Regions from separate parts of the Homo sapiens genome. Here region 1 is linked to region 2. The links come from fine-mapping of genetic effects on plasma protein levels. Region 2 holds a variant in brackets. A gene starts in the other region. All regions are shown on their reverse strands. Region 1 holds the start of VAT1 (vesicle amine transport 1). Region 2 has its middle 7.4 kb from the start of PLTP.

Evidence for each region. PIP is the chance, under the fine-mapping model, that this variant and not a neighbour inherited with it causes the effect. Protein levels are from antibody-based Olink assays in UK Biobank. Linkage for the fine-mapping came from a reference panel and not from the study's own genotypes, which makes the PIPs less certain.
Region 1: it holds the start of VAT1, and the variant in region 2 is fine-mapped to the plasma level of the VAT1 protein (UK Biobank, PIP above 0.99).

What each region holds. Positions count from the first base shown.
Region 1 is chr17:43,020,134-43,025,488 of GRCh38, reverse strand. It overlaps VAT1 (vesicle amine transport 1), which reads left to right and starts at 3,104. Exons shown (of 6, transcript NM_006373.4): 1 at 3,104-3,553. The coding sequence starts at 3,167. RND2 (Rho family GTPase 2) reads right to left here and starts at 258. Exons shown (of 5, transcript NM_005440.5): 1 at 40-258. The coding sequence starts at 141. RefSeq lists a silencer at 295-434.
Region 2 is chr20:45,916,878-45,922,246 of GRCh38, reverse strand. No RefSeq gene overlaps it. Among named protein-coding and RNA genes, the nearest start is that of PLTP, 7.4 kb to the right of the region's middle. The variant G/A (reference allele first, on the strand shown) is at 2,916.

The sequences.
Region 1 (5,355 bases), not on the chromosome of region 2:
CAGCCTTAGCGTCCCCCTCCCAAGACGCAGGTCCCTCACCCCGGGATAGGCGTCCTTGGCGAACACCTGCAGCAGCGCCGTCTTGCCGCACTCTGCGTCTCCCACCACCACGATCTTGCAGCGGCCGCTCTGCCCCTCCATGGTCCCGGCTACGCGCCGGTCCCCCACGCCACCCCTCTCCCGGGCCCCGCCGCCGCCTCCCCCGCCCCTGCAACTGCAGCCGCTCGGGCCGCCAACACCGGCATCTCGCGGGCCCGCGCCGAGCCCCCGCCCCGGGTCCGCGGCCCCCCCTCCGCCCCGCCCCCAGCCAGGCGGCCGCGCCCCCCCGGCCCCTCCTCCCACCCCCGCAGCCGGGGGGCGGGGCCCAGAAGATCTGGGCGGAGCCCTGGGAACAGAGGCCTCAGAGCCGGGGTCCAGCCCGCCGGTGTGGTCTGAGGGGCCCCTGCCGGTTTGGGACAGGCCGAACTGGGCTTATTTGACTTTCTCGGATATAAGGGCAGGTCAGAGTTCAAGCGAAGTTCTTAGGGGTAGAATATGAGCGGCACAAGCGCGAAGCTCGGGCCTGCTGTGTACCCACGCGTGCACGCAGGTGTACCAGTGCGGACAAGAGCTGGGGCAGCCATCCACTTCCTGAACACGGCGGGAGAGAGATGCTAAGGGGAAGGAGGGAGCCTCTTTGGTTTTCTCTCCCGCGTCCGCCTATGTCCTGGCAGGGGGTCTTGGGGAAATGGGAGGGTGAACCCCAGCACACCCACCCGGACGGTGGTGACATCATAGCTTTCCGTCCCCATGGCAACGGGCAGCCGGGTCTCCGGTTACATTGACTTAACCGCCGGCCTAGACTAGCAGAGAAGCGTGGACTGAGTTCCTCCAGCCAAGCACTGGGTGGAAAGTTTTGGGGGAGCTGCGTCCTCTGGTGGATGCTTGGGGACAAGGAGATAAGGAAGAGAAAGAACCAACCGCCAGAGTTGCTCTGCTGGAGCCAGAGCTAAACCCAAAAGTCAGGCTTGATTAAGAGTCTGACAATAGGCCGGGCGCGGTGGCTCACGCCTGTAATACCAGCACTTTGGGAGGCCGAGGCGGGCGGATCAAGAGGTCAGGAGATCGAGACTATCATCCTGGCTAACACGGTGAAACCCGCACGGTGGGCGCCTGTAATCCCAGCTACTCAGGAGGCTGAGGCAGGAGAATGGCGTGAACCCGGGAGGCGGAGCTTGCAGTGAGCCGAGATTGCCTCACTGCACTCCAGCTTGTGCAATAGAGTTTCGAAAAAAAAAAAGTGCTTTTTTATATCGAGGCAATTCGAGTCAATAATATATGCTGCAAATAATTCTGTAAAGATAACTAGAAGCTGGGCGCGGTGGCTCACGCCTGTAAACTCAGCACTTTGGGAGGCCAAGGCTTGCTTGCGTGCAGGAGTTTGAGGCCATCCTGGGCAACATTAGCGAGACCCTCTCTCTAGAAAAAAAAATCAAAACTTAGCTAGGTTTGGCCACTCTAGGCACGCTGCCTATGGGGTAGCCCTGCTCTGCAAAGAGCAGTAAAACATAAAGTTAGCCGGGCGTGGTGACACATGCCTGTGGTCCCAGCTATTCAGGAGGCTGAGGTGGGAGGATTGCTTGAAGCCGGGAGTTTGAGGCTGTAGGGAGCTGTGATCGCCCCACCTCGCTCAGCCTGGGTGACAGAGTGAGACCCTGTATCAAAAAAATAAAAATATAAATATAACTAGAGCACGCAGCATCATCACTATGTTACAGAAGGGAAAATGAGGAACAGAACGTTAACACCAAAGTCAGAAAGTTTTAAAGGCTTGGTCTCCATGCTTCTACTTTGCCACTGCAAGACCACAGTGAATTAAGTCTCATCCCTGCCTGGGTTAGATGTCAGAGCCTGAGACACAATGTAGTTGGACTCCAGTCCACAGGTGGCTGACTCCAAATCTGATATGAGTTAACTCCAAATCTGATGTAAGTTCAAGTTTTGGGACTGTTCCTTAACTTTTTTTTTTTTTTTTTGAGACGGAGTCTCGCTCTGTAGCCCAGGCTGGAGTGCAGTGGCGCGATCTCGACTCACTGCAAGCTCTGCCTCCTGGGTTCATGCCATTCTCCTGCCTCAGCCTCCCAGGTAGCTGGGACTACAGGCGCCTGCCACCACGCCTGGCTAATTTTTTGTATTTTTTAGTAGAGACGGGGTTTCACCGTGTTAGCCAGGTGAATCTCCTGACCTCGTAATCTGCCCGCCTCGGCCTCCCAAAGTGCTGGGATTACAGGCGTGAGACACCGCGCCCGGCCTTTTTTTTTTTCGAGATGGAGTCTCCCTCTGTAGCCCAGGCTGGAGTGCAGCGGCATGATCTTGGCTAACTGCAACCTCCGCCTCCTGGGTTCAAGCAATTCTCCAGCCTCCGCCTCCCTAGTAGCTGGGACTATAGGCACCTGCCACCATGCCTGGCTAATTTTTGTAGTTTTAGTAGAGCTGGGGTTTCACCATACTGGTCAGGCTGGTCTCGAATTCCTGACCTCAGGTGATCCACCCACCCGCCTCGGCCTCCCAAAGTGTTGGGATTACAGGCGTGAGCCACGCCGCCCGGCCCTTTTTTTTTTTTTTTTTAACAGGGTCTCACTCTGTTGCCCAGACTGGAGTGTAGTGGCGCGATCTCGGCTCACCTCCGCCTCCCAGGCTCAAGCGATTCCTCTGCCTCAGCCTCCCAAGTAGCTGAGATTACAGGCGCGCGCCACTACCGCCCGGCTAACTTTTTTATTTTTAGTAAAGACGGGGGTTTCACCATGTTGGCCAGGCTGGTCTTGAACTCCTGACCTCAAATGATCCACCAGCCTCGGCCTCCCAAAGTGCTGGGATTACAGGCGTGAGCCACCGCGCCAGGCCTATCCCTTAAAATAGTTTTTAATTTGAATAAGGTTTACTATGAATAAATAAATCACAGTCGGCTTGATCCCAAGAGCACAGACGTTCCTGGTGCCCCTTTTCGTGCTCTCCCAGCTTGCGCCACTATGGCCCTGGCCCTTTAAGGCTGAGCGCGAGGCCCCGCCTCGCCCGGCGCCCCGCCCCTCCCGCTGGATCCCGCAGCCGCGGCTCTTCCCGACGCGTTCCGCCTTCCCCAGCTGTGCACTCTCCATCCAGCTGTGCGCTCTCGTCGGGAGTCCCAGCCATGTCCGACGAGAGAGAGGTAGCCGAGGCAGCGACCGGGGAAGACGCCTCTTCGCCGCCTCCGAAAACCGAGGCAGCGAGCGACCCCCAGCATCCCGCGGCCTCCGAAGGGGCCGCCGCCGCCGCCGCCTCGCCGCCACTGCTGCGCTGCCTAGTGCTCACCGGCTTTGGAGGCTACGACAAGGTGAAGCTGCAGAGCCGGCCGGCAGCGCCCCCGGCCCCTGGGCCCGGCCAGCTGACGCTGCGTCTGCGGGCCTGCGGGCTCAACTTCGCAGACCTCATGGCTAGGCAGGGGCTGTACGACCGTCTCCCGCCTCTGCCTGTCACTCCGGGCATGGAGGGCGCGGGTGTTGTGATCGCAGTGGGCGAGGGAGTCAGCGACCGCAAGGTGAGCGGGTTGCGTAGGGCAGGGCAGGGCTGCGCAGGCCACTGGGCAGTGGGGCACGAGTGGGCGAGCGCCGGGGGTGTGGCAGGGCGGGAGAAACTGGCGCGGACCTGGGTGCACGAGCGTGGAAAGCGTAGCCAAGGAACTTGTGTTTGGGGGCTCCTGGAGAGCGGCATTTATGTGGGGAGGGGAGACGAAATTATCGCCCCTTCCCCAACCATTTTTAGTTGTGGCCGCCGCCCAGAAGCTGTGCTGGTGGGGGGGAAAACAATAAGGTGCCCATGCGCATGCGCACAACCACACTACCGTCCCCACCCCCCCCCCCCCCCCCCATTAAAACCACACCTGTACCCCTACCCACCAAACACTCTCTGGGTAATTGTGGTCTGTGACTATGAGTGACGGTTAGTGCCCCCTTTCCCCGAGGGAGCTTGAGGGGCTATGTCGTCGGGGTTGGGCGGGGGCACAGCGGCCGTGCCAGAGTCCTGGTCACATGCAGCCCCGTGGTCTGTGGGGGTGTGAGGCGGCCCCTCCCAAAGCAAGGCCAAAGAGACGAGACACGCCCATCACGGAGGAGAGAGAGCCTTTGCTACCCCACCGCCACCAGCCTTACACCGCCGATCTGATTTTGGGGTGGGGGAGGCGGGATTGGGTCATCCGATCTTTGTCTTGGGCTCTGTGTCTCCCGTGACTGCAGTATCTCCTCCTCCTGTGACTCAGCCCTCAGCCTTCGGGCCACGACCCGGGGCTGCCCTTGGGAATGCCTGGGGCGGGGAGTGGAAGGGGGGACCCACCTCTGCCTTCCTCCTGCAGAGGACCCCCACTTCAGAAACCCCAGTGCCAGGGGTTTGGACTGGAACGGAGAGGTGCGGCGCCTTGAACTGGTTGGCCAAGTCTGCAGGCCTGTTTCTCCTTCTCATTTATCATTAATCTTGGCCACAACCCTGGACACCAGAGAGCTCAAAATGATCAGCTTTTTGAGAGACCTGGGATGAGGCCTCAGCACGCCATTTGTTTAGAGGTTTCTTTTTTTTTTCTTTTTCTTTTTTTTTTTTTTTTTTTTTAGACGGAGTTTCGCTCTTGTTGCCCAGGCTGGAGTGCAATGGCGCGATCTCGGCTCACCGCAACCTCTGCCTCCCGGGTTCAAGCGATTCTCCTGCCTCAGCCTCTCGAGTAGCTGGGATTACAGGCATGCGCCACCATGCCTGGCTAATTTTGTATTTTAGTAGAGATGGGTTTCTCCATGTCGGTCAGTCTGGTCTCGAACTCCCGACCTCAGGTGATCTGCCCACCTCGGCCTCCCTAAGTGCTGGGGTTACAGACATAAGCCACTGCGCTTGGCCAGGAGTTTCCTTTTTAAATCAGACCCCTCAATGAGAGGCCCCACAGATGCAGCCTCTTGCAGACCTGCCAGCCCAATTCTGGAGCCAGGTTTGTTGGATTCATCCTGTATGCAAACAGCTTCTCCTTAAGGCTTTCCTCTGAATTCAGCTCTGGCCCCACCCTCAAACTGACTTCTAAATGATCCCACTCTTGAGCAGGCGTCTAAGAGGAATATTTTCGGGAGGTAGTTGTAGTTCATGTTACTGCTGAAGGCCACCCACCTCACCTCCCCTCCATACACTTTCCGCCTGGTAAATACAGGATATCCTGTCCAGGGCAAGAATCTGATGTAAGAGCCTGGATTCTGCGGGGAGGGCCCTTCCCTCTCTCTCCCTCCTCCTCCTTCCTGGTGTCTGGGTTGGGGAGGGGTCATGGCCCTGATTTGGATGGCCTGAGGGTTAGCATGAGCCAGGGTAAGTGAG
Region 2 (5,369 bases):
ACTCCTGACCTCGTGATCTGTCTGCCTCGACCTCCCAAAGTGCTGAGATTACAGGCATGAGCCACCGTGCCCGGCCATCTTGAATTCAACAAACATCTATTGAGCATTTTCTGTGTGCCAGACCCTGTGCTGGGCACTGGACATATGGCCATGAATAAGAGTGGCAGGCTCCTGTCCCCGCCCTGGGGAGCTTGCAGTCTACTGGAAGAAACAGGCAATAAAGAATTAAACAAACAGAATGACAGGTAATGACACAGAGGGGGCCTCTTCTGTGGGGGTGACATTTGAGTAGGGATCTGAGTAACTCTGCATGGGTATGTGTGTGGGATGATGTGTCTGGTGGAGAAAAGAATTAAGGAAAGTCTGAGGCTGAAGGCACTTGGTGTGTTCCCAACAGTGGTAGAAGATGGGCTTGGAGAGGAAGGTAGGCAGGAGCTAGTTCACCTGCAGTGTTTCCAGAGGTCGTGGCCAGAGTCTGGGTTTTATTTTGTGTGTGATGGGGAGGATGTTGAGCAGGATAGAAAAATTCTATGATTCCCATTTTTAAAAATATCACTTAGATTGATGTAGAGAGGCTAGACCTACAGGAGAAATGGTGAGACAGGGAGATAAGGCAGGTTGTCCCGGTAACCAATGAAAATGGCTTGAAGTGGTGTTGGTGCTGATAGAGAGAATTGTATAGATGTGGGGCATCTTTTTTTTTTTTCGAGGCAGAGTCTCGCTCTGTTGCCCAGGCGGGAATGCAGTGGCGCAATCACAGCTCACTGCAGCCTTGACCTCCTGGACTCAAGCGATCTTCCCACCTCAGCCTCCCAAGTAGTTGGGACTATTGGCGCATGCTACCACACCTGGCTAATTATTTTTTGTAGAGACAAAGTCTCACTATGTTGCTCAGGCTGGTCTTGAACCCCTGGGCTCAAGTGATCCTCCCACCTCAGCCTCCCAAAGTGCTTTGATTACAGGCATAAGGTGAGGCGTCTTTTGGAGTTAGAGACACCGGGATTTGCTGATGTGGGGTATAACAAAAAAAGGAAGTCAAGGATGACTCCTATATTTTTGACTTGAGCACTGCATAAAGCTGGTGCCATGACCTGTGATGGGGAAGCTTGGAAAAGGAGCAGGATTTGGTACTTGCTAGGGTTGGGGGGGAGCTAAAATATGGATCTAGCTGGGTGGAAGAGAGGAAGAAGGCCAGAGGGCGGTGACATCCTCATGATTCCTGGCTAGGGGTTGGCAATCTTGTTAGACCAAAGCCTGGGTTATGCGGGGGACTCCTGCAGTATTAGGACACCTGGAAAAATTCGAGTTGCATTATGTTGACCACTTCTTGCAACATTTCAGCAAGCCCTGCAGAAAAGGGACAAGCTTAGGCTGAAGATGGTGGCCTATCCTTATTATCAAAGGAAAAAATCCCTTCCTTTGGGGCCCCCTCCCTTCACTTACTTTGAAATGTTGTGACTGGCTTATGAAATCCAAACATCTAGACAGAGCTGCTATGGATCCTCCACCTCTTCCTCAAAACAAGTAGAGGCTGGAAAGCCCACGTGGAGTATAAGGAAAGCACAGACGGTTAGGAGGCTTAGAGGACCACAGAAAGAGGTCCCCATGAGTCAGAGTCAGCTAGCAGACTGACAGAGGCATAGAAACTGGGAAGAAGGGTGGGATATGAAGAAGAAAAGAAAAGGGAAGTCAGAGAGAGAGTGAGCTGCCCAAGGCTGACATCCGAGCCCTGATGGAGAGGCACCAGGTGTGGGGATACAATGCCCTAGGACCGAGGACCCAGGGAAAGCAACACCTCATAAGGAACCTTAGAATCCTTGAGTTTCTAATCTGGAGGTGACTTCAGACACCAAGTGGCCTGTTCTTCACACAGAAAATGGACTGGCCTTCAAGGAGGAAATGGGAAAGAAAGAAGAAAACAACAGATCTCCCAGCTTTAGAAATCACGGAAAGTCAGTCCACAGCTTTGGCCTGGCTGAACTCAGCAAGCCCCAGCCCTTTTAGATTCCTTTTACCCATTTGGTAAATGTCCAGCCCTCACGCGGACTGTTTTGTCCAGTTGCATTCTGGAAACAGATGATCATTTCGCCTGTCTGGAGAGATGTAATCGGGGTCTTCCTGGCCTGAGATTTGTCCTCCTCAGATAATCCTCCTCTCATTCCAGCTGGGTCCCCTGTCACATGTCCCCAGGTGCACCCATGCTGACCAACACAGGCGCATGAGCTGCAGTGCTCATATGCTCAGGCAGAGTGAGGAGAAGGGGGTCACTCCCTGAGGGGTAGCTGGGGTGGGCGTTGGGGGTGGGGACTGGGCAGGAGAGGAGATGGGCTGACGCAGCTTCTCCAAGCCATGCAGAGATCCAAAGAAAACACAGCTGGAGGCACAGCGAGGGAGGAGGGGGCCAGAGCAGTGCATGTTGACATGTTGGGCAGCAATCCAGCTTGGCCTCCTGTGGTCAGTGGAGCCCGTGTTTACTTCCTTGGACCAGTTATTTCCTCGTACTGAACCTCAGTTTCCAAATCTGCAAAACAGGGCCAATAATAGCTATCTCAAGGCACTGCTGTGAGAGTTACATGGGATAATGAAAAAGAGAGAGACAGAGAGAGAAACCTAGTTACAAGCATAGGCTCTGGGGCCAGACTGACTTGAGCTTATAACTGCTGGGCCTCAGTTTCCTTATCTGTAAACTGGGGGTGAGGATACCTATCTTGTAGGATGTTATGAAGTGTAAGTGAGTTAATATGTGGAAGCACTTTCTGGCCAAGTGTGGTGGTTCACGCGTGTAATCCCAACACTTAGGGAGGCCGAGGCAGGCAGATCGCTTGAGGCCAGGAGTTTGAGATCAGCTTGGTCTACACAGTGAGATTCTATCTCTACAAAAAAATTTTAAAAGTTAGCTGAGCATGGTGGTACAT[G/A]CCTATAGTTCCAGCTACTCGGGAGGCTGAGATGGGAGGATTACCTGAGCCCAGGGAGGATGAGGCTGCAGTGAGCCATGATCGTGCCACTGCCTTCCAGCCTGGGTAACAGAGTGAGACCCTGTCTCAAAAAAGCACTTTCTGTTTGTTAAGCAACTATGACAACTATTAATACTAATAATCAGGCCAGGCACAGTGACTCATGCCTGTAATCCCAGAACTTTGAAAGGCCAAGGCGAGAGGATCGCTCGAGCCCAGGAATTCTAGACCAGCCTGGGCAACAAAGTGAGAGCGCCCCACCCCGCCACCAAGTACTAGGTTCCACACTTTGTATACTTTATCACTTTAAATCCTCACTGCCACCCAGGGAGGTAGGTAAGTACTAGATCATCCCATTTTACAGATGTGGAAACTGAGGTTCAAAAAGTGTTTTTTTTTTTTAGAGACAGGATCTTGCTGTGTCACCCAGACTGGAGTTCAGTGGCACAATCATAGCTCACTACAGCCTCGAGCTCCTGGGCTTAAGCAATCCTCCTGCCTCAGCCTCCCAAAGTACTGAGATTATAGGCATGAGCCACCATGCCTAGCCCAGAAAGAGATTTTTCATTTCCTCTGGAACAGGGGTTGGTAAACTATGGCCTGTGTGCTAACTCCAGCTCCCAGCCTGTTCGTTAGATATTGTTTATGGCTGCTTTCATGCTAAAGTGTAGGGCTGAGCAGCTGCGATAGAGACCACAGGGTGTGGAAAGCCTAAAATATGTACACTTTGGCCTTTTCAGGAACAGCTTGCTGACATTTGTTCTAGAAAAAGGCAGAAGCAGGACTTTGCTATCCTGATTCCTTTACAGGAACAGCTTGCTGACATCTGTTCTAGAAAAAGGCAGAAGCAGGACTTTGCTATCTTGATTTCTTACCAGTATTGCTGTGCTGGGTACACAACTGAGGCTGGAAAGGCACTTCCTTCCTGTCCCTCTGAGTGCTGGGAAGCCTCTCCTTCTCTCTTCAAAGCCAGGGATGAGGCCGGGCGCAGTGGCTCATGCCTGTAATCCCAGCACTTTCAGAGGCCGAGGTGGGAGGATTCCTTGAGGCCAGGAGATGGAGACCAGCCTGAGTAACACAGTGAGACCTCATCTCTACAAAAAAAAAAAATTACAAACATTAATCAGCCGTGGTGGTGCATGCCTATAGTCCCAGCTACTCAGGAGGCTGAGGTGGGAGGATTGCTTGAGCCCAGGAGGTCAAGACTGCAGTGAGCCAAGATTGTGCCTCCGCACTCCAGCTTAATAGGCAGAGCCAGACTCTGCCTCAAAAGACAAACAACAACAAAACCAGGAGTGAAAGTGGGAAGGGATTTGGGGATTTGGCTCTCTCCATGTCTCAAGCCCGGTGATGAGCACTCGAGGAGGCTGCCAGAGCCCATCCCACGCTGCACATCTGCTGACATCACTCTTAACGTTTGAGGGTTGTGTGCACCATATGTTTTAGAGGAAAAGGGAAATCAATGTATTAAAGAGGGACAGGCTGAGTGGGGAAGGCCCTGGATTCAGGGCCAGTGACTGCACCTTCTCCTCCACCAGCCCAGGTCAAGGCTGTATTTATTTATTTATTTAGAGACAGAGTTTCACTCTTGTTGCCCAGGCTGGAGTGCAATGGTGCGATCTCAGCTCACTGCAACCTCCACCTCCTGGGTTCAAGCGATTCTCCTGCCTCAGCCTCCCAAGTAGCTGGGATTATAGGCACCTGCTTCCACACCCGGCTAATTTTGTAATTTTAGTAGAGATGGGGTTTCACTGTTTTGGTCAAGCTGGTCTGGAACTCCTGAACTCAGGTGATCCACCTGCCTCAGCCTCCCAAAGTGCTGGGATTACAGGCATGAACCACTGTACCCGGCCGGTCAGAGCTGTGTTTAGGGTCAATTGAACTGAGGCTAACATGGTACAGGAGGAGATAAAGGATCTGGGTTGGCATAGGGATCGCCTGCTGCCCAGGGACATTCAAGGACTCCAAACCAGTTCAATCACTCAGTAAATATTTAGTCAGTACCTACTGTGTGCCAGGCATGGTTCTAGGCACTAAGGACACAGTGTTGAACAAAATTCCAGCTCTCACGGGGACAGACAACAAACAAGAAAGAAAATATTCAATAGTAATAAAATCTATAAAGAAAATAAACCAGGCTGATATGATTGAGAGCGATTAATAGATAGGCAGGCAGGGAAGGCCTCTCTGAAAAAACGCCATTTAAACTGAGACAAAATGCTGGGCGTGGTGGCTCGAGCCTGTAATCCCAGCACTTTGGGAGGCTGAGGCGGACAGATCACTTGAGGTCAGGAGTTCGAGACCAGCCTGGCCAACATGTGAAACCCCATCACTACTAAAAATACAAAATTAGCTGGGCGTGGTGGTGCACGCCTGTAATCCCAGCTACTCAGAAGACTGAAGTAGGAGAATTGC